Linked DNA regions of Homo sapiens: region 2 is linked to region 1. Evidence: fine-mapped expression QTL. Tissue or cell type: whole blood. Region 1 holds a variant in brackets; the other region holds the start of a gene. All regions are shown on one strand. Distances are from middle to middle.

What was found. PIP is the estimated chance that this variant, and not a neighbour inherited with it, causes the effect.
Region 2: ALDH1A1 starts here. The variant in region 1 is fine-mapped to the expression of ALDH1A1 in whole blood (TOPMed, PIP above 0.99).

The regions. Positions count from the first base shown.
Region 1 is chr9:72,924,525-72,927,295 of GRCh38, forward strand. It overlaps ALDH1A1 (aldehyde dehydrogenase 1 family member A1), which reads right to left. Exons shown (of 13, transcript NM_000689.5): 5 at 2,592-2,653; 6 at 960-1,088. Among named protein-coding and RNA genes, the nearest start is that of ALDH1A1, 27 kb to the right of the region's middle. The variant G/A (reference allele first, on the strand shown) is at 1,132.
Region 2 is chr9:72,951,545-72,954,315 of GRCh38, forward strand. ALDH1A1 (aldehyde dehydrogenase 1 family member A1) reads right to left here and starts at 1,509. Exons shown (of 13, transcript NM_000689.5): 1 at 1,391-1,509. The coding sequence starts at 1,456.

The DNA.
Region 1 (2,771 bases):
TTTTTTAGTTCCTAGCTGTTGTTGATTGTTGAGGGCATAACTGCTGAGTTGCAAATTCCCATTGGCATTACTTAGTAAATTGTTAAGTAAATACTGTCATCCCATTCATGATTCAACATCACAGGTTGATTTCAATCTTCATTAAAGAATTCAGGTGAAGGCATGGGAACTGAGTTGGGCACATTACAATTTCATGTTATTTGCATCGAAATGTTTCATTTTGACATCTCTTTTCCCTGTTTTTAATTTCAATAAATAATATCTTTAAAAGATAAGTTCAGTTTTGTAACTTTAAGTTTCTAGTGATTAACATTTATTTTTTAAGATTTGGTAAGATGAAGAAAAAAGGACAATGAATTGTTTGCAAGTATATTAACACAATCTAGATAGCTGATGAAAATGTTTTACATGTTCTTTTACTGTTTTTGAACAGGAAGATAAATGCAGAGGAACTCATAATAGAAAACTGAATATAAACATATCCACTCATGAGTAGATTGAAAAGTGTTTGGAAATAATGTGGCCCAATATTACAAACAAGCATATTGGCATAGAGGCCCTTTCAACCTTACATAGATTAGTTTACACAATTTTGCAGAAAACACTAGGCCATCAGTGGCAGGTACAAACCAACTTAATGTTTCAACATTTGAAAGAATGCTACATTAATTTCAACATGAATTTATGTTCATGAGAGTTGGACAAAGAAGCAAAAATGTGATCCCAAGTTGACTGTTTGACACCAAACCTTTGTGTTTGGCTTCCTGTCTGCATTTGGGCAGAGATGAATTTGGGGTGACTGCCAGAAATTGCAGCCAGCCGTCATGCTAAATGTATTCCCCCCACTGGACAGGAGCCATCTGTAAATAATGTACTTTATAGTAGCAACAAATGAGGTCTTCCTATTGTAATTTAGGATTCTTGAGTTCTTGAGCATATTTTGATTTCGGGAGACTTACCTCTTTTATTAAAGATGCCACGTGGAGAGCAGTGAGAGGAGTTTGCTCTGCTGGTTTGACAACCACTGTGTTTCCACAGCTCAGTGCAGGCCCTATCTTCCAAATGAGCATAACCAACGGGAAATTCCACTAGAAAGCAATATGTAACAATAGATTCTTTGTATTGCAAAAG[G/A]CATATTTGCTAATCCAACTTCCATATTATACACCCCCTGTAGATGTTATGTAATAATTGCGTAGTTTTGTGAAATCATCTGGCATATTATACTTCATTGCTAAAAGCAACTAGTAAATGCTAAAACGCTCTGAATAAACCAGATATGAGATATGAGAAGGAAATAGGAGAGAACCTCAAAATTTAATCAAGTACTGTTGAGTTCTTTTTCTACCAGGAAAAAAAAAATCACTGCATGGTTTGGCTTATTATGGAGCACACTGTAAGTTATCTAAAAATGTTTAAAAAGGATGATTACTCTCCTTCTCCATAAGTCATTTATTGTAATTATTTACCCAATAATATTATTTAGTAGCTTTTATTTCCAGGAAAAATACCTTGCTAAAGACAAAGATGTCCAGGGTCCAGAGGCCAAGTACTTGGGTTCAAATCTCAGCTCAATCACTGACCAGCCATGTGAACTCACACAGGTTACGTGCTCTCTGTATCTGATTTCATAATCTGTGAGTGCTGATAATAGTCCTCTCTGCCTCAGAAGGCTGTCTTGAGCATTAACCAAGAAAGAGGGCCAGGGGCTCAACACAATGACTGGTCTAGCATAGACAAGTAGTACATATCAGCTATTATCAGTGTTCATAATTATATAGTTTTTATCGATTTATTGGGACTTTTGAATTAATAAGCAATTTCACTAAAATATTGATATGAATATATTTCAATCTCATTGGAGCCAAAGATAAGTCTTGACCATTTCTTCACATAAGGACTTCGCTACCATTTTTTTGTTTGGCCTTTTAAAGCATGTCAGTTAAAATAAAATCATTTAGATAGTGTCCTGTTTGTTGGGCTTAAAAAATCTTCACAATCCTCTTAAAAAGGCTACTTTCCTCTAAGAGTAATATGGAGGATCTGAGCCTCTTATCTAAAGGTAAAATATATTCCATGCAGTGCTTCAAATGCCTCTGGTATTCTTTTTTCCATTTTGATTAAAAAATGTGTGTCATGAGTTGAACACTCTGGGAGCTACTGTTCTGCATGATGAGATGTCTCAATGAGAAAGTGCGTTGGAGAATAGTAGGCCCCACTACATTCCACCAAAATGCTATCCTGCAGATGTGCAGTGGAGAGCACCTTGCCATATACATGTAAAGCTTGGCTCTTATAAAGAGTACATAATACAACTTTTAATAAAACAACCCATAGAGTAAAGGGTTAACATTTATGGATGATGTAGTATTAAAACATTCTCAAGAGATATGCCAGAATATAGATAGGTTTTCGGACTACCTAATTCATATGCAAGAAGTTTAGTCACAGGGAGACCAAGTTCAACAAATCTTACATTTACTCCACATTTAACAAATACATAAGCATCCATCTGTTTTAGAGAAAGCTTCATCATTAGATAGAATAAGAACTCTTCTTTTTAAAATTGAGAATTATATAGGAGAAAAGCTTACAGGAATGATTTGGCCACATACACCAATAGGTTCATGTCTTGTATATGTAAAAAAATTTCCATCTGAAAAATAAAACACACACAATCATATATAAACAAATGTATTTGACATTCACAAAATGGTGGTTGGTGATGTGAGAGAAAGGTGTAGACAATAATTTTAAAAACATATATCTGGCCA
Region 2 (2,771 bases), 27 kb after region 1:
ATCTGAGCATTGTCGACAATTTTGAGCTTCATGAAATGTATTTTTAAATGTACCCACTTTCAATTGAAATTTCTTGTGAATGACAAACTTGGAATAAGAAAATGAGGGAGACTGGACTCTTGCAACCTTTTGGACATACCTTTGCCAAATGTAAATTGTTTGACGGTATGGATTTACTGCATTTTTCATGCTACCATTTGTAGTAAAACTAAATGGAAAAAATCTTTCCTCTTTAACAAAACCTCGTGATAACAATACCTTAAAATACACTTCATAGCTGCTGGTCAACCATGTTAAAGGCACAATCTGATCTCTGCTGCTACTTTCCTGAGGAAAAGAGCCAATCAGCTGAGCAACTTCCTCATTTGTTGTGCTTTATGAAAATGAAAATGCAACAGACCTTGGGATTTCAAAGCCATCCATGGTTACAAGTGAGGAAATAAATATATAACAGTGGGGACTTTTACTTTATCATTAAATTATAATGCCCTTTGTTTTTCTGTTGGCTAATTCAGACAGCAAAATGGCTCTCTCTTGATTTGCAAGAGTTAATTTCTTACCATACTTTCTGCATCACACCATAAAGATAACTTCAAGTAATTTTGGTTAGATTGTGTTTTATTCATTTGTTTGTTTTGGAGTTCTAGGATCTGACAGGAAAGCAGTGTGAAACAGGCAAAGTTCAGAGTTACTCTCAGAACGACTCAAGCAGGATCCATTTCCTAGTTCCCCCCAGCTGCGGATTTTAAAGTCTGGATCTAGCTCCTGCTCTTGTTTCTCTAAATATTTATCAGTTAACAATTACACATCTGCTCCAATGGCAACAAACTTGGCTGAAGAAATAATGCTTTTCTTCCTCCCACCAAAATATGCAAAATAATGCAAGTCCATCTGAAGATTTTCGAATCCAATTATCAGACTTAAGTCCCCCTATTTTAACACTCATTTTATTAAACATATTGGAAAGTTATGTTATTTCAGTATGCTCTCTTTCTCCTTGTTTGCTTTCTATTGTTCCTACTCGTTTGGTTCTTTCCAGTAAGCTTCTCTAGTGAGTATTTTGCTCTCTTATCATACATGCCGGCTATAGTGAAGTTAATAGAAGTGCTTAGTAAAGTCCTCTGAATCCTGGTATAAGAATCCTTTCACACAGAAGAGAATTCCTTTCGCTTGGAAATATTTTAAGAAATAAATTTATGAAAGATTGTCTGATATGATTTAGATCATATTTGATCAGGACACTAAACTGAGACCTGCATTTTGCATGCCTTTTATTTTTATATTTGCAAAGGGCTCTTTACACAAGTTTACTTAAATTGACCTTTAATGCTTTACATAAATGCAGTTTTTGCAAACCCGAGTCAAAGCAGAAAATAGAAGTTTTACTCACCTTAGTATATTGAATCTTCAAATCGGTGAGTAGGACAGGTAAGTCTGGCGTGCCTGAGGATGACATTTCTGATTCGGCTCCTGGAACACAGGTGACTGGCTCAGCAATTTGGTTCTGATAGAGCACTTGGCTTTATTTGTTCCTTTTTTATCTGCACGGGCTAAAGTTTATTTGCATACTCGGATACGATTGGATGAACAAACTCAGAGCAAAAAAAGAAAACGACACTACTTATTTGTAACACCTAGGGCAGGAAGCCTTTGACTTTAAACTTAAATCCTTAAGAAACCAGTGCTCCAGCATCGAATTTGTACCTGGAGACAGTGCACTATTTGCAGATGAATTAATTTACAAAGCCGAAACCTGTGATAAGTGTATGCAGCAGCTGCTCTGGCCACTAAGGCCAGTTATTATTTTTTTGACTTCTCATGCTTTTTAATGCTACTATGTAACTTTCTGTTCTCTGACAGACTTGGAATCAGAGAATTTGAGGATTGAAAAGAGTCTAAAAGGGCACTTGTTCTCAGTAGAAGCTGGCCAGGTGTCTTCAGGACAAGGCTTTCAGGAAATCAGTCCATCTCCCAGAAAATCAAGGTGCTGTTTGGGGAAGAAAGGCCCTTTATCTACACCCTACCCTAAGTTAGTTTTAAAATATCGTATCAGTCTTGTGTATTTTCAGTGCTGGGTAAGTAGACCTACTGTGATCTCAGAAGCCCTAAATTATCTTTATTTTCTATATGTGAACAGAAAAGCCAGCAGGACTTTTAGGGAATTCGGAACACACTGTCACACACAATCACCACAATTAGAAATATGGCAATATCATCTATTAATACTCATTTAAAATGAAAGTAATCCTGGTTTTGGAAGTTGTCTGTATTTATCAACATAGGCAGTGTACAAAGACTAAATTTAAGCAGGGCTTCCAAACAATTCAAGTTCTTAAATTAATATTTAGCTGAAGGACAATTTTTTAAACAGTGTTACTCCCATTTTAAGTACAATACTTTATTGTATTGTAGCTCTAGCAAACGTTACAATAGGAACAAGATAAAATACTCTGGATGCTCTGATTGTGGAGAATCAACCAATTTTTTTTTTTCTAGTGAAACTTGCCAATTCCCCTGAATATGGGACTTACATAGGGAAACTAAAAATTTCTGAATTGTTTGCCCAAATCAGGTGCAGCACTTGTTTCCCTTTCTACCCTCATTTCATATCCCCATTTTAGAGACATACAGAGGGTGAGTAGCTTACTTATGGTCACAGATCTATTAGTGCAGGACCAGAATTTCATTTCAGGCCAGTCTGACTCCCAAACCTGGACTCTTATTTCTGTTTACTATTTCTACCCTATTCTCCACAAGAGAACTCCTACATG